4 linked regions of the Homo sapiens genome follow. The protein of the gene in region 2 interacts with the protein of the main gene of each other region in a pairwise test. Each region holds a gene or a part of one and is shown on either strand. Other genes may lie near its edges.

Region 1 (4,427 bases), on a different chromosome or scaffold from region 2:
AATTTCATTAAGGCATTGTTTACTCCTAGATCATTAATGAAAGAGCTACACCAGGTCAGACTGAGCTCCAATAGCACCCTCCGGTGCCTCCTTCATCCTTCCCAGTTGCCTTTTCTCCTTCCCCTTTGTTTGTGCTTGTTACTCAGAAGCAGTGAATTCCTGCTGACAGCACCCGCCAATTTGAATTCCCAGGAAGATTTCAGGAGAGTCTCTGTTAAACAGTATGCAAACATACTACATATGACATCTTCTTTATCCTCTTTGCTGTTAACGTTGTAATTCTGTCAACATCAATCACATTTACCTTGTGAATTATCCTTTTACCTGTTAGTATTTATTAAAACCACCATTGACTTTGCCATGGTACCAGGGAGCTGAATTAATTTAAAATAATGATAATGAGACTCAGCCTTGTCATCTCATATGAAAATCAGTATCATATTTGGCTTTTCCTTCCAGAATCCTGGGTCCTCTCAACTTCACATGCTTTAATAGTACCTCAGATGGCTGAATGTTCTCTGATAGTAACCCTCAGTAATGTTGGCAAAGTTGGTGTTTAAGAAACTTGGTCAGCAGGCTTGGACTCTATCAGCAGTGTTTGGACATCTCTTCTGGGCTGTGGTAGCCACATTTTTCCAGGGGTGGAGAGACATCAGTGTGTGTCAGCTAAGCCTGGCTAGTTGCTGTTCAATCCCATCCCCAAACTCTTTGGATGGGAAACCACACCCCCAGTAATTCTATCCCAGAAGGTCCCACCCAGAGAGACCTGTTGCTACAAGTCCTGTAGCACTAGTAAGAGATTTTGGTCCTTTCACTTCCCCTTTTCCTTTTGCCCTTTGGCCTTTGCATTTTGCCTCCCTTCTTTCAATTGTCCCCTTCCCCCATGTTCTTCACTTGCCACCAGGTTGGTGATCTGACAAAGACACAGTTGTTGGCAGATTTCAGGCATTTTCCTTCCAGGACCACTTATATTTACCAAGGAGGGCACCAGACCTAATGCTAAGGAAGAATTCCAATCCACAGATGGGACTTCAGGCTTCTGTGAGGGCGATGTTCGTGCCCATGGCCCTTCCTGGATCCCTGTCACTAATGCATCATTGGGTTACAGCTATGAGCACATTTCCCCTGAGGACAGAGTCTCTTGGCACCTTTCTAGCACCCGACAGGAAGGCATGATGAGCCCATGACCAACTTATTCCCCTTCTGCATCAGCTTCATATCTCATTCCTCCATGAAGAAGCCAACCTTTTTCTTTCCTACCTACTGGATCTCTATGTGAGGGCATTTCCTAGAGACCAGAAAAGAGACAATCTTTTATTTTCATGGTCAGTTGCACCATGCTACACAGGCTGTACCTCCCAGGCTTAGGAGAACATTACTGGGGTGTTCTTGGGGCTTTGTATTGGCATAGACCTCTTGTCAAGGGCTAAAGGATATCAGGGCAGGTTAGCTTGGCCCATGAAACCAATCCAGTGATACCACTGGTCGAGGAGTCCTACTGAGAAGGAACTGGCTTCTAACATAGGCCAAGGAGGTCTGGAATCCTGGAACTGCATATGTTCGCTGAGCTCAGATGCTTAGTTTTTGGGTAGCCCTTTTGTAAAGAAATATACTCCACGTTGCATAGCGCTTTAGGCTGGGTATGTTTAAACCTTACCAGTAGAACTGACCATCTGTTTAGTCTTTATGACAGCTTGGCTACCACTTTCTTGTCCTCTGGCAACCCCAGGAAGTAGGCAGAGCAGCCATGTTTAGGCTTATTTTAGAGGTGACATTCTGAGAGGCAAAATGACTTTCTCAAGAGCAGTCAAAGGAAGGACTTTTGAGCCCAAAGTTACTGGAAATTTAGGGCGTTTACCCTCGTTGGATTATATATTCAAGATGATGAAAGGGACCACTAGCGTGCTTGTGTGCAGGGGGTGGTGGGAGCTTCCTCTAAGGGAGTACATGGATGAACCTAGGGGTTTGTGGAATTCACGTGAGGAAAACTCCATGCTTATAGATTTTACATCATACCATAACAGCTTTGCCCTGGGACTATTTTAAAGTCTTAAAATATGAATGGAAATGAGGATATAGCTTATCAAATACACTAACTATATTAAGGCAAAAGAAATGGCCATTTTTGTAGGCCAAAAATGGTAAAATGTTAACAGTTTCTTATGGTTCAACCTAGTATTTCCTCCCAATCTTTCAGTGTATTTTGGTTGATTCAGTTATTGCCAAGGACTCATTAAGCCTCCACCACATGTGAAATTTGCTTTCTAATTCCCAAGACTTGGGATGTCACAAAAACAAGGGATAGGTCACTGTGCTTAGATAATTGCAACTTACTCATATGGGGAGAGGACAGGCCTGGTTGTAAGAGAACCATTGCAAAGTAATGATATTAGCACATGCAAAATAAAATGTCTGAGCATTGTGAAGTGCTAGAATAAACATGGAGTTTGGAGTCAAATATCCTCATTTTAAACCCTGGTTCCACTCCTTTATCAGCTATGTAATCTTATGCAGAATCATGCCAGTTCTTTGGGTAAGATATTACATATGAATACAGAAATCAATTAGCATATAACCTGACACATTATAGTCACTCAGTGTTATTTTTTTTCTTGTTCTATATAATCTTTCTCTAAAGAAATGCTAAGCAATGTCTCTTCTAAAAGCCCTTCTTGTATGTCTGCAGCTCTTTATAAACAAAGAAAATGTTCCGAGTCTCCTTTTATTTCTGAACAACAAACCCTCTGAGAGAAGTAGGGCAGATGTTGGTGAGGTCGTTATAGAGGGTTGTACAGGTTGTGCCCTGCAGTAACAGTGAATAGCGCCTTTTAGAGTTGGGCATTTCAAAAATATATGGGTTGGCCCTGATTCATTCATGTCAACATCCACATTTTCTAGGAACTAAGGCACAGAAATGAAGTGACTTTGTAAAGGTCATGCACTCATATAGTGCAGAGCCAGAATTCTCTGGAGATGTTATCATTTCTAGTCCCCTATTCCCCACACCTTGCTGCCTGCGTTAATGCTTCCTGCATTTTGACTTCTCTCATTTGCATCAAGAAGTAATTGGTGCTATTCACTGATTCTTCAAATCAACTGGAAATTCCCTGAGGGCAGGGTCTGTGAGCTTGGAACACAGTACGTGCCAAATTAATGTTAGTTGATTCACTGACACTAATGTAGGGGAAAAATTGGTGCAATAACATCCTGAGTGGGTACATGACTAGGGTGAAGAATTTTCACAAGGCCAAGAGCTTTCCTTTAAGGATTAAATCCAGCTAGCTCTGATCAGAATCAGAGAAATGCTACAGGAAAAAACAAGTTTGTTCTGGATCAATGTTTTCCTGAAGTTCAATCATGATCCTTGTCATGTCTAAAAATGCCTGTATATTTAATATAGGTATGTTTTCCCATTACTCATTAAAATAAGTATATGACTACTGAAAAATTTTTAAATGTTCTAAGAAATTAAGCCATGAGGAAACACTGCACTTGACCACTTTCTTGGTCCTGTCTGAGGATAGGAGGAAAGATAATAGGACTCAGTCATTGGAGAAGAATTTGGTTTCCTGTTGAGAAAGTAAAGGGGACTTATTTGTCCATCAGCATTTCCTGGATTAGGTGCTGTGGGCATGGAACAAGAGAAGGCACAAAGCCTGCTTGGGAAGAGTTGGCCATTTAGGGGAGAGGACGAGATGCCAACTAGGTTGGTAAAAGAGGGCTGCTGGGGCCATAGTGGTGCCAATTTACAAATGCAAATCCACTGGACCAGAGACAGTTAGGCCAAGAGAGCACTTAGAGATAATGACTCTTACCCTTCATTTTACAGAAGTGGAAACTAAGGTCAGAAAGTGAGTGGATATGAGCAAGATCACCTGAATGTGTGAATAAAGACCAGGGCACAAACACCCAGGTTGTCCGTGGCTAGGGATCCACCATATGTTAAGGTTTTGTTTAGTGTATTTCTGTTGAGGGGATGACAGAATGTTCCTTGGGTACCCAGTGTGGAAGGTGGATGTAGAACACAGGCAGCTGAATGCCATGGGTTAAAAGCCATCATGGCCAAATATGGACAGGTAGAAAGCATCCATGATTCCTCTTTGGACCCTTAGTTGGATCAAGAAGATTGTCTCTCTGGCTGAAACAAAACGATCGTTAAAAAGAAATGAGAATTGGGGAAATTTGAACATGGGCTCAGTATTCGCAGATATTGAGGGATAATTGTTAAATGTTAAAGGGTGATAATGGTATTGTGATTCTGTTAAAGAGGCACATATTTATATATTTGTGGATAAGATGACACAATGTCACTTTGCTTTAAGATAACCTAGCGGTAGGGGAGTGGTTGTGGAATCAGGTTGAGGCCTGGTGAAACAAGTGTGGCCTTGATTTGATACTTGGTGAAGCTGAGTGATGGGTACATGGAC
Region 2 (5,354 bases):
AGAAAAATGGACTGTAAATTTAGGAGCTAAAGCTGTAAAAAAAAAAAAAAAAACTGACGATAGCTCTTAAATTCCAATAAACACAACCTGAGCAACTCTTTCAAATAGCAGTGGCCTCTTTTTTAATTTTTCTTCTCTTTCTTCTAGTTCTCGTTGGTATTCTCTCATCCTTTCCTTTTCGCTCTTTCTAAAATTAAAGAAAAGCAATGGAATTTTAAAAGATCATCTAAGAAATAAGAACTTACATATGTAACATTTAACTTATCAACTTGTACAAAGTCAATGAAAAAAAAGAAATAACATTTAGCTTAGCTGACAAATCAGAAATTATAAGCACAGTTCACAGTTTACCTCGATTCCTCTTCTATACCGGTTAATTCTCATGGAATGCAGAATAAAATCCTAGGTTCTGAGATCACACATATTATGCTCTAGGAATAGTCTGGACACTTTAATTTCTGAAATCCTCAAGGCATAAATATTTTAAGGGACTTCAAACTGCCCTGAAAAGATGAATGAAAGTCCTCTTGTCTCATTTATAAGTGTATAAAACCAAGAAAATTTTGGAACAAATTAGCTATCTTCTCTGTAAGGAATTTCTCCTGAAAACAAGACTTTGCTCTTATTTTTTATTATTATTTTATTGTTGTTGTTATTTACTTTTGTTTTGAGATGGAGTCTCATTCTGTTGCTCAGGCTGGTGCGGTGGCACAATCTCAGCTCACTGCAACTTCTACCTCCTGGGTTCATGCAATTCTCGTGCCTCAGCTTCCCGAATAGCTGAGATTACAGGTGTGCACCACCATGCCTGGCTAATTTTCTGTATTTTTAGTAGAGATGAGGGTTTCACCATGTTGGCCAGGCTGGTCTTGAACTCCTGACCTCAGGTGATCTGCCTGTCTTGGCCTCTCAAAGTGCTGGGATTACAGGCATGAGCCATTGCGCCTGGCCTATTAATTTTGAGACAGGTTCTCACTTTGTTGTCCAGGCTGGAGTGCAGTGGTGCAATCATGGCTGACTGCAGCTTTGACTTCCTGGGCTCAAATGATCCTCCCACCTTAGCTCTCGAGTAGGTGGAACTACAGGGGCATGCCACCACACCTGGCTAATTTTTTTAAATTTTTTGTAGAGATGGGGGTCTCATTATGTTTACCAGGCTGGTCTCAAACTCCTGGGCTCAAGCAATCTTCCTGCCTTGTACTCCTGAGGTGTTGGGATTACAGATGTGAGCCATGGCATCCAGCCTTTGCTGTTATTTTTTTCCCCTAAATAAGATCTCCTACAGGTTAGTGGCAAAGTTAATTCAATGGGAGCAAGTCAAAGGAGAAGTAAAGAGCATGGGAATACAACATAAAGAGAAACAGGAACCAAAATATATAAATTTACCGTAAGTGTTCTCACTGTTTGAGCAAGATCCTATAATAAATTAAACTACACTATTTTCTCTATGTAAGATATAATTGCTACCAAGATAAATAAGATTAATGGATTGGGGAAAATAATTATACTTTTAAATGATAATTAGGCTTAATTATACACAAGTTGGTGTTATGAAAAAGCTATTGTCCAGGCACGGTGGCTCACGCCTGTAATCCCAGCACTTTGGGAGGCCAAGGTAGGCAGATCACCTGAGGTCAGGAGTTTGAGACCAGCTTGGCCAACATGGCAAAACCTCATCTCTACCAAAAATACAAAAATTAGCTAGGCGTGGTGGTGAGCACCTGTAATCCCAGCTACTCTGTAAGCTGAGGCAGGAGAATCGCTTGAACTCGGGATCCAGCCTAGGTGACAGAGCGAGACTCTGTCTCAAAAAAATAAATAAATAAAAAATAAAAAGCTATTAATAGTTTACTTCCTAAGGGTAAGTAATCTATTTCTAAGAAACATTATGCTCACGTTCATCAAATTAAGCTCCCTTTATCAATGGATTAAAGCTAAATTATAAAAGAATACTCATTGTAATTAAAAGCACATATGCATATTTAGAAATCAGATTAAAAAGTAATAAATCACATTACTTACCTGGCTTTGAGGGAGATAGTTTCCTACTTAAACATCAACATTTTTATGTGCAACATCTGGAACACTGGTTTTCAAACTTTGTACTGCAAAATTCTAGTGAAGGGGTTCTAAGAATTCCGTGAATATTTTTATATTGAAACTAACAAAATGCAACACATACTACTAAACATTAACATATGTGCTAATGAACACATCACATAACCGATGTTTAACGTGTTAATTTGTGCTATCAGATTTCATCCAAACCTTAGAACAAAGCTCTTTGATATATCTGTTTACTGCAATCAAAAATAATATAAAGAACAAGATCAGATATTGGTATAAGATTATAACCATTAACTAAGGCCACAATAGAAAATGTCTGTATTCATCAACATAGCTTCATGGTTCTCACCATAAAGGTGAGTTTATATGTTGGTTCTCACCATGAGGTGAGTGTGTGTGCACTGAACACAAGTAACTGATGACAATTTAAATCCATAAGCTAAAACACTAATGCTATTTTCAATCTGCTCATATTTTACTATCTACTGATTAAAAAAAAAAGAGTTTGAAAACCAGTGGTCTGGAGATTCAAGATTTTTTCATGATACCTGAGACATTTTACTCTGGATTTAGATATTTGAGCTAAACTTTGATGTGAGTCATAAGCCTTAGCCCGGGTTGTCAGGAGTTTCTGCAATTCTTTCATTCTTTGCTTCTGTTTAGTTAGGATCCGATTTCTCTCTTCTTCCAACATTTTCTTTTCCTCAAGTGATCTCCTGAGGGTAACAAACTAAGGCTTAATCCACTTTAAGCCAATCAGAATGTTGTTTAGCAAAGATTTAACATGGGATAATTTGAATTTTGATAATTCAAAATTTGAAAAAAGGTAACCTTTTGAAAAGGATCTGACCTGTAAAACTAGAAATATTTATTTATTTATTTATTTATTTATTTATTTATTTATTTTTTTTGAGATGGAGTCTCGCTCTGTCGCCCAGGCTGGAGTGCCATGGCGTGATCTCGGCTCACTGCAACCTCTGCCTCCTGGATTCAAGCGATTCTCCTGCCTCAGCCTCCTGAGTAGCTGGGATTACAGGCACCCGCCACCACGCCCAGCTAATTTTTTGTATTTTTAGTAGAGATGGGGGTTTCATTATCTCGGCCAGGGTGGTCTTGAACTCCTGACCTTGTGATCCACCTGCCTCGACCTCCCAAAGCACTGGGATTACAGGTGTAAGCCACTGTGCCCAGCCAGGTAAAACTAGAAATCTTAAGACTATTATTTTCTAATCCCCCAAAATTTATAAATGAAAAATATATTCATTTCTTAGAATACCCTCTGACAAAATATCATATATTATATAGTAAAATATCTTATAGATACAATAATAATTTCTAAGTATTTTCAAATTTACCAACATAAACTCCACAGAGCTGCATACACTCATCTGGCAACCATGAGTCAGTCAGTACTGCGTCCTACTTACTTACCTTACGGCTTGTTCTCGTCCTCTGGAAGATACCGTGGGCACGGGAGGGTTGCAGTTACAAGGCACAGGGTTTACACCTGCACATCTTACTGGTGACTTACGCCTTGGAGACAAATAAGGCCAACGTGTTTCTTTTAAATTTTCTTCATCTGCTTCGATGTCTGCCAAAATTTTTTCTCTTTTAATAGATGCATGTGGAGATGCATGAAGATCAAATGGTTTACACACTGTTAAGAGTTTTGGAGACTTGTGTTCTGAGAGGTGTTTCTGGTATCTCTCAGGAAGGTCCTCAAAATCAGGAGTTGGGCACCTAACCTTGTGTTTACACTTCAACTTTACAGCCTGTTCAGGACACCTGGGGTTCCTGCATCCACAAGCTGACCTACAAGGCAGAGGAGATGAGTTCTGTAAATGCTCCTGGGCTCTCAGCTGTGTCCTAAGGTTTCGATAGAGCTCTTCTTCTTTTAACTTGTCATTGGTAGTTGAACCATAAGTAGATCGAGGAATGGGTCTGGCTTTAAATCGATTTGTTTTCTTTTTATACTTAAGAAAGTCTCTCAGCTGCTTTTCCCGGGCTGCTCGCTTCTGTTCCTCCCTTGCTATAAATTTAAATGGCTTTTGTGAGGCCAAAAGAGCTTCTTTGCTTTTCTCCTTCAGAGACCTTCTCCGTTCTTCTTTTTGCTTGACTAAATCATGGTAAAGGGGGAGAAAGACAGATGCAGGAACTGGATTGGCTCGGAATTTCTTCTTATACTCTGGATCCTCTTCTTGTTTTTTGAGCGCTTTATGTACCATTTCGATATCTGATTTAGATTTCATGGACTCTTCTTTTTTCTTCTGTTCTCTTATCATCATTTGAAAAGGCTCCGGTACTGTAATTGTGGGCACCCATTCTTTTCGTTTCTTCCTTCTTTTTTCAGCTGCATGGAAGCCAGTATCTTTACAGCGAATATAATCCTCAACACAAAAGTCTGTCCACATATTGTTGATGAGCTCCTTAGCATAGGTCATCATTCTGTTTTTCCTAGGATACTCTTTTTCTAGGTTGGGTAACTCCTCTTCAGAGGAGGACACATACAAGGAGGAAGACTGGCCTAAATCAGGCTCTGAAAATGATGTCATTAATGAGACAGGGTGATAGGAGTTCTTTTCTGATACAGATCTAAATGAGAAGAATAACTATGTTATACTTTCAGTTGTATGTGACCAAATATAAAAATTAAGAGTTACATATTTTCTTTTTTTTTCTGAGACAGAGTCTCACTCTGTTGCCCAGGTTGGAGTGCAGTGGTGTGATATCGGCTCACTGCAACCTCCACCTCCCAGGTTCAAGCAATTCTCCTGTCTCAGCCTCCCGAGTAGCTGGGACTACAGGCTTGTGCCACCATGCTCAGCTAATTTTCTGCATTTTTAGTAGAGACAGGGTTTTACCAAGTTACCCAGGATGGTCTCAATCTCCTGACCTCGTGATCTGCCTGCCTCCGCCTCCCAAAGTGCTGAGATTACAGGCATGAGCCACTGTGCCCAGCCAAGAGTTACATATTTTCTAAGATCAGGGTATAATCAGAAGCGAGGAGCTGGACAGGGCTTGTAAGAATCATCACTTTTATTTGGAATAGAGCTGGGCAATGCCCATAAATTATCCACTTTGACTCCTTCATTTTACAGGGAAGGAACCTGAGATGGCAGAGGGTCCTTGTGTCTAACCTCTATTAAATTCTCCCCACTTTCCAGAGTCACTGTCCTGAAGCATAGATCTGATCATGTCATTCCCCTGCTTGAAACTTTTTGATAATTCCTCACTGCTACGAAGTCAAGCCTAGATTACAAGCCCTTCGAGACTGGCGCCTATCTTTT
Region 3 (3,622 bases), on a different chromosome or scaffold from region 2:
ACCTGGGTACCTACAGATTTCCTTCCACACTGTCAGAATTGAGATGAAGGAAGCCCAGAGAAATCAAGTACCCTCCACCAGGCAGAGCAAAGTCCTGGGTGCCCAAAATCCAGGGAAGGCAAGGGCTGGGGGTACAAGCAGAGGATCTGAAGAGGTATATGAGAGTGGCCAGCACAGACCTGGCATAAGCTTGGTGCTCAGTGAAGGTTACCTGATGTTGCTGGGCACCAGGGTGATGCAGTGCAAAGGGCCTTGGCCAACCCACTTTGCAGCATAGCTGGGTGACCTGGTACAGATCACATCGCATTTCAGAGCTTCAGTTTCCCCTCAGGCAGAGAAAGATGACAAGAGAAGCCTGGAAGGGTTGTTCTGGGGAGTCAGTGGGTAAAAAGAGGCCAGGGTGGATCCTGGCACATGGTGGGTACCAGACCAGTTTGTCAGAGGAGGTCCTCTCTCCCCAGAGGTACCCACACTGGCTGTTGCAACCAAACCCTTTTGTTGTTGCTTTTCAGCTGCGTCACACGAAGGCCGTGTCCAACTGCAAGAGCCCGCCTGCTTCACTGGCCCCCAGTGCAGCCTGGCACAGCTGCAGGGTGTCCTCAAGCGCCAGTGGCTGGGATGTCTCAATGATGGCGATGGTCTCCCCCAGCTCTGTGCACATGATAGTCTGTTGAGGCTCTGGAGGTGGGGGTGGGGCAGGAGATGGTGATCTGGGAGGCTGTAGCGTCAAAGTCCGAGCTCGGGCATGGACCCGCTGATGCAGTCGCAAGCCCGCCATGGCGCGGAACCAGCGGCCACAAGTCCCGCAGTAGTAGGGACTCTTGTTGTAGAGACCAGTGATGGGGAGGCGGGGGGCGCGGGCAAAGGCGACTGGCCGCAAGTGCAACCGCCGGTGCTGCTGCAGGTTGGAGCTCTGTGTGAAGCGCTTGCCACAGTCCAGGCATTGGTAGGGACGTGCACCCGTATGGGTCAGCTGGTGGCGGCTGAGGTTGGCCAAAGAAGCAAAGGTCTTGCCACATGAGTGGCACTGGAAGGGCCTCTCACCCGTGTGTGTCCGCAGGTGGTTGCGCACGTGGATCAGCTTCTTGAAGCCCTTGCCACAAACCCCACAGCGGTGACGCCGTTCAGGGGGCCCGTGTACTGCACGCCGGTGCCGGGACAGCCGGGAAGCTGAGGCAAAGGACTTGGAGCACTGTGGGCAGGGCAGCTGGGCAGGTGGGGCAGGGGGTGGTGGTGGAGGGGTGGGCTCCGCTGGAGCTGGGGGAGCTGTTGCTCCTGTGGGAGGTGCCCCGCTTTTGCCGGCGTGAGTGCGCCGGTGGTAGAGGAACTTGGTCATGTTGCTGAACGTCTTGCCGCAACGACAGCGATGCAATGGGTTGGCAGTGTGGGCCCGCCGGTGAGCCACCAACGTGAGTTCTGTGCCAAAGCCGCGGCCACAGTCTACACAGAGGTAGCGGGCTTCCCCGCGATGCAGCCGCAAGTGCTGCTCAAGCGATGCTGCTTTCTTGAAGACCTTGGAGCAGGTTGTACACTCATGTGTGCCACCAACATGGGCCCGCCCATGAGCCTGCAGCCGGTTGGCGGAGCTGAAACTGCGCTGACACTGGCTGCAGTGGAAGGGGTGGGTGGCAGATGCCGGGCTGTGAGCCGTCCGCCGGTGTTGCCGGCGAGCCCCTGCTGAGGGCTGGTGCTGGGGACAGTCCCCGCAGCCCTGAGCCCAGCCAGCTGTGGACTCGTCACCTCCCACAGCATCATCACCGACCTCTGCCATGGCCTCCTCATCCTCCATCTCTTCATCATCTTCTTCATCCTCCTCATCGTCCTCTTCCTCCTCCTCCAACCCATTGCGCTCCTCTTTCTCTAGGGAGTCAAAGTGGGTGCCCTGATGCTCCAAGAACTCCTCAGGGGTGGCGCAGAGGGTAGAGCACTCAGGACACTCATAGGGCTCCATCTTGACTTCGGATGGGGGAGAAGGTGGAGGCAGTGGTGTTGGGGGAGGCAAAGGAGGTGGCACTGGTGGCTCAGCTACCGTAGCAGAAAGGTGCTGGGCCTTTCGATGAGCCACCCACAGCTCGGGCGAGGGGAACAGCTCCTGGCAGTCCCAGCACTGGTATTGGATCTGGTTTGCAGACTCTCGGAGGTGGGCATCCTGGTGGGCCAGGAGCTCCCCAGGGGAGAGGATGAGCTGGCTGCATTCACCACACTGGAAGGGCCCCTCAGCACCCGGCACCAGCTCCGGCTCCAGGCCAACATTCTGTGTGGTCAGTGCCTCCTCCTCTGAGACAGCAAGCATGTGCTGCTCCTGGTGTGAGAGGACTTCCTCCAGTGTGTTATAGAGGCTGCCACACTCAGAGCACATGAACTGGTGATGCTGGAAGAAGAGGGATGAGGCAAGGGCCTCCCCAGGTGTCATCTCAGTCACTTCTGTTGACATCTCCATCATCTCTGCCGACATAGGTGTTGACATCTCCACTGCCCCTGGTGACATCTGTGTTGGCATCTCGGCCACCTCAGCCACCACCTCTGCCATTGTGGGGAAGGCAGTGCCTGGAGAAAGAGGGGCAGGAGCCAGTGAGACAGCAGGAAACCAAGGGGAGGTGGAATTCTCTTGCACATCCCACTACTCACCAGCTATCGCTCAGGAAGTCTTAATCCACTGTTTCTGCTTCAGTCTTCCGTGATCCCATGTCTCTGAAGCCTACACACACCCCACGGCAGCCTGCAGGAGAGAAACACCACTCAGCCCAGCCTCTTTTTTTTTTTTTTTTTTCTTCTGAGACAGAGACTTGGTCTGTCACCCAAGCTGGAGTGCAGTGGCACAATCTTGGCTCACTGCAACCTCTCGCTCCTGGGTTCAAGCTATTCTCGTGCCTCAGCCTCCTGAGTGGCCGGGACTACAGGGGTGTGCCACCATGCCTGGCTAATTTTTGTATATATATATATATATATATATATATATTTTAGTAGAGACAAGGTTTCACCATGTTGGCCAGGCTGGTCTTGAACTCCTGACCTCAGGTGATCCACCCGCCTTGGCCTCCCAAAGTGCTGGGATTACAGATGTGAGCCACCACCCCGGCCAACAGCCCGGCCTCTTTTTTTTTTTTTTTTTTTTTTTGAGATGGACTCTTGCTCTGTTGCCAGGCTAGAGTACAGTGGCGCAATCTCGGCTCACTACAACCTCCACCTCCTAGGTTCAAGTGATTCTCCTGTCTCAGCCTCCCGAGTAGCTGGGACTACAAGTGTGCGCCACCATGCCCAGCTAATTTTTGTATTTTTTTGTTGTTATTGTTGAGATGGAGGCTCGCTCTGTCGCCCAGGCTGGAGTGCAGTGGTGCAATCTCTGCTCACTGCAAGCTCTGCCTCCCAGGTTCAGGCCATTCTCCTGGCTCAGCCTCCCGAGTAGCTGGGACTACAGGCGCCTGCAACCACGCCCGGCTAATTTTTTGTATTTTTAGTAGAGACAGGGTTTCACCGTGTTAGCCAGGACAATCTCAATCTCCTGACCTCGTGATCTGCCCGCCTGGGCGTCCCAAAGTGCTGGGATTACAGGCATGAGCCACCACGCCCGGCCAATTTTTGTATTTTTAGTAGAGATGGGGTTTCACCATGTTGGCCAAGA
Region 4 (4,427 bases), on a different chromosome or scaffold from region 2:
GAGAGGATCCTAGGAGCACCTCTGACCCCTACAGACACTGTTGTGGCCTCCCCCAACCCCTAAGTGCGACGTGCATCATCTCTGTGGGGTGAACGGCGCCTGTGCTAGGGCTCTGCTCGCAGTCCCGACCATGCTGTGGGCACTCTGCCTCACTTCCCACACCAAGGAGCTGGGGCGTTCAGGTGCCGCCCACACGAGGAAGGAGGCCAGAGCCTCCCACATCTGCCGAGTCGTTCAGAAGTTAACAAGGCTCATGGTTTAGGGTTTTCTGGAATGCAGGGCTAATCTGAGAACACTTCCCACTGTCTATATGGAGACTGCATAAGGTCACTCTACGGAGGGCAAAACGCACCCCCAGAAGGTCTGGGTAGGGGCGTGGCCCTTACCTCTGTGCATCGTGAGTACTTTCTGCAGCTTCAAGCTCTTGCCGAACCCTTCCCAGATCGTTTTTCAACAAAGTGTTTTCTTCAGAAAGTCTATGGAACTCCAGTCTGCGTAAAAATTGAGAAAAGACCGGTGAGCACTTGGGGAGCCACATGTGGTCACGGAGGCTGGCTCTGCAGCGGGGAGTCCTGAGAACTGTGCGTCCCCATCTCCCCGTCCCTGGAGGTGGCGCCAGACACCATTCCTTTCCCTCTTCCTGCACCAGGTGTTAACGTCTTACATCTCCCATGAGCCAAGCCACAGAAAACGGAACTTTCTTAGCTTCTACACTGCCACGCCATCAAGTCACAAATGCACTCAGAACCTTGGGTTTTGCTTATGCTGAGTTTATAGCTGAACTGCTCCTGCATCTATGGCCTCTCACCAAACGTGTGTCCTGGTTGCCAGTGCTGGGCGTGAGTCCTCAGGTACTGCAGGGTACTCATGCCCTGGCAGTGAACTCAGTGTGGAGCTAAGAAACACAGGAATCAGAAGGCCAAGATATATGGGAAACCTCTGCTAGGTGAATCTCAAAGTGGGAAAAGGCAGGGATAGACAGCCACTATGTGAACCAAGTCTGCCTGGGCCGTCTTTGTTCTCTGACAACTCAGGGAGTCCCTGCTTGGGTAATGCCATTGATTTGATAGATGAAGATGGCAATTTACCAATGAAGATCACTAATGGGAGCCAGGAGTGGCGGCATGCATCTGTAATCCCAGCTACTGGGGAGGCTGAGGCAGGAAGACTGCTTGAGCCCAGGAGTTTGAGACCCTCCTGGGCAACATAGTGAGACCTTGTCTGTGAAAAAACAAAAAAGATCACCAGTGAAGTAGCTTAAGACCCATACTTGCTACCCAGAGAATGCATTCTTAATACTGACTGGTAAGGCTAACGTGTATTCCCCAAATAGGTCTCCATATGGTACTAGCTTCTTATTTTTTCAGTCTGAAAATACTGAAAGCCACATGATCTCACCATGTTCACTTCATGTATTTTTTTGTTTTTTCTTTGAGATGGGGTCTCATTCTGTCACCCAGGCTGGAGTACTGTGGCACGATCATGGCTCACTGCAGCCTTGAACTCCCAGGCCCAGGAGCTGGGACTACAGTAGGCATGCGCCACCACGCCTGGATAATTTTTGTTGTGGTGGAGATGGGGTCTCGATAGGTTGCCCAGGCTGGTCTCGAATTCCTGGTGATCCTCTCACCTAGGCCTCCCAAAGTGCTGGGATCACAGATGTGAGCCACCACGCCCAGCCCGCTTTATGTATTATACTTATAATAGTAAACATAAGTATCTTCTTCATATGCCTTCATTTTATCTCATGAGGAACTAAAGACAAAAATAAATAGTCACTGGAATTAAAGGCAGCAAAGGGTTTCAAGCAGGAGAGTTCTGTGTTTTTAAACTATCACTCTGGCTCTAGAATGGAGAACAAGTTGATGCAAGGCCGAAAGCTGAGGGGTGCCCTACCCCATCCCCCACATGACCACCAAACAACTAGATCCTGCGCAAAGCTGATCGCAACCTCTGTGACTGTCCTCATGGAAAGAAAAGAAAACCTGCAAGAATCTCCAAACAAAACAAAATCCTGGAAGCTGAAACCAACGCGTGAGCACTATGCAACACAAAGCTGGGGGGACCTTGCAACCAATGCCTATGTGTCAGCACTGCTATTAGCAGAATGGAGAAGCTGCACTGTGGACACCTGCACCAGACAGGGCCCTGGAAGGAGGTTCAGACAGTCCCAGATTAGCACCTTCTCACTTCTCTGCAAAAGCAATAGCATCCCATATAAGGCTCTTTATATTCCCAGAGATTAACATCAAGCAAATATGAGCTCACAATCAAAGATCACCATAACATACATGGAGCAAAGCCACCCATAAATGACAGCAGAAGCCAGAAGCCAGAATTCAATCCTCTAGAAACTGCAGGTATTGGACTTATTAGACACAAACTAAAAATAAGTGTTATGAAATGTTTACATAAATAAAAGACAGCAACAAACAATGAACAAGCAACAAGAAACTATTGACAATGATCAGACAGGACCAAACAGAATTTTTAGAAATGAACAAAAAGTCAATGTCAAAATAAAAACTCATGGGATGGTTTAAATAGCAGATTACACAGAGCTGAAAGAAAGAGATACTGACCTGGAACACATAGGTATGTAAAAAATACCCCAAATGTGATACAGACAGAAGATGGAAAATATAAAAGAGAGGTTGAGACATAAAGTGAAATGCTCTAACAGTCACATATCTAATTGAAGAAAATAGTGGGAGGAGAGGATATATATATATATATATATATATATATATATATATATATATACTTTTTTTTTGTTTTTGAGACGGAGTTTTGCTCTTGTTGCCCTGGCTGGAGTGCAATGGCGCGATCTTGGCTCACTGCAACCTCCGGAGAGGCAATATTTTAATAGTAATGGCTGAGAGATTTTCATGAGACACCAATGCAATCCATACATTCAACAGGGAAAATATTTCTTTTTTTTTTTTTTTTCCCTTTTGCTCTGCCGCCCAGGCTGGAGTGCAGTGGTGCAATCTCAGCTCACTGCAGCCTCAACCTCCCAGGCTCAAGTGATCCTCCCATCTAGCCTCCCAAATAGCTGGGACCAAAGGTGCGTGCCACCATGTGTGACTAATTTTTCTTAAGTTTTTGTAGAAAACAGTCTCCTTATGTTGCCCAGACTGATCTTGAACTCCTGGGCTCCCAGAGTCCTGGGATTATAGGTGTGAGCCACTGTGCCTGGCTGGGACAATGTTTTCTAAGTAGGATGAACAAAAAGAAAACTATGCCTATACCCACAACATAACAATCCCATTTCTAGGTACAGCCCAACATAATGCTCCAAAAGACAAATGCAAGAACGTTCAGTGCAGTTCCATTTGTGAGAGCCAAAAACTAGGAACTACCCAAATGCCCATCAACAGGAGAAAAGAATAAACTGTGGTATGTTCACACAACAGAATACCACACAGCAATGCAAATGTATGAACTACAGCAACAACACAGATCAATCGCACAACCAGGTTGAGCCAAGAAAGTCAGACACAGAAGAGTACACACTGCATGATTCCTCTCCATAAAGTACAAAAACAAGCAAACTGAATCTATGCTGTAAGAAGTGGTTACCCCGGGGACTCTGGTGAATTCCATCTCTTGTTCTGGGCGCTGGTAACACAGACGTGTTCAATTTGTTGACAATTCTCCTAATTGTACAAATATATACATTTTCTTATGTGTATCACACTTTAATAAAAAGTTAAAAAGAGGCTGGGCATGGTGGCTCACACCTGTAATTTCAAGGAGGATCCACTTTGGGAGGCTGAGGCAGAAGGATCGCTTGAGGCCAGGAGTTTGAGACCAGCCTGGGCAAAATAGTGAGAGACTATCTCTACAATGAATAAAATAAAATAAAATATAAAATAAAATAATAAAATAAATAAAATAAAATAAAATAAAATAAAATAAAATAAAACAAAGTGGCCAGGCCTGGTGGCTCAGGCCTTATGTAATCCCAGCACTTTGTGAGGATGAGGCAGGCAAATCACTTGAGGCCAGGAGTTCAAGACCAGCCTGGCCAACATGGTGAAACCCCGTCTGTAGTAAAAATACACACATACACACACACACACACACACACACACACACACACACACACACATCAGCTGGGCATGGTGGTGGGCACATGTAATCCCAGCTACTTGGGAGGCTGATGCAGGACAATTGCTTGAACTTGGGAGGCAAAGGTTGCAGTGAGCTGAGGTTGTACCACTGCACTCCAGTCTGGGCAACAGAGTGAGACTCCGTCTCAAAAAAATAAATAAATAAATAAATAAAAAGTTAAAAAGAAAGAAATGCACACAGCAAATAAAAACCACTAAAGATACAGGTCTCAGAAGTAACCAGAGCACAAAAGTCAGATACCTACTGTGGATGGCACAATACTGGCCTCTAACAGAGACTATGTGACATTA

Evidence for each region. Proteins that work in one complex are often made in the same cells at the same time.
Region 1: the proteins of FAM161A (region 2) and CBY2 interact in binary tests that used the Homo sapiens proteins (3 or more experiments, as listed by UniProt).
Region 3: the proteins of FAM161A (region 2) and ZNF526 interact in binary tests that used the Homo sapiens proteins (3 or more experiments, as listed by UniProt).
Region 4: the proteins of FAM161A (region 2) and NINL interact in binary tests that used the Homo sapiens proteins (3 or more experiments, as listed by UniProt).

The regions. Positions count from the first base shown.
Region 1 is NC_000013.11:45,705,320-45,709,746, forward strand, and holds part of CBY2 (protein chibby homolog 2), read left to right. Parts: intron 1-4,427.
Region 2 is NC_000002.12:61,835,923-61,841,276, forward strand, and holds part of FAM161A (protein FAM161A), read right to left. Parts: intron 4,660-5,354; coding exon 3,499-4,659; intron 2,784-3,498; coding exon 2,616-2,783; exon of another isoform or gene 2,023-2,615; intron 188-2,022; coding exon 88-187; intron 1-87. UniProt on the Homo sapiens protein: Involved in ciliogenesis.
Region 3 is NC_000019.10:42,223,312-42,226,933, reverse strand, and holds part of ZNF526 (zinc finger protein 526), read right to left. Parts: intron 2,720-3,622; 5' UTR 2,629-2,719; intron 2,548-2,628; 5' UTR 2,531-2,547; coding exon 518-2,530; 3' UTR 1-517. UniProt on the Homo sapiens protein: May be involved in transcriptional regulation.
Region 4 is NC_000020.11:25,469,605-25,474,031, forward strand, and holds part of NINL (ninein-like protein), read right to left. Parts: intron 492-4,427; coding exon 387-491; intron 1-386. UniProt on the Homo sapiens protein: Involved in the microtubule organization in interphase cells. Overexpression induces the fragmentation of the Golgi, and causes lysosomes to disperse toward the cell periphery; it also interferes with mitotic spindle assembly.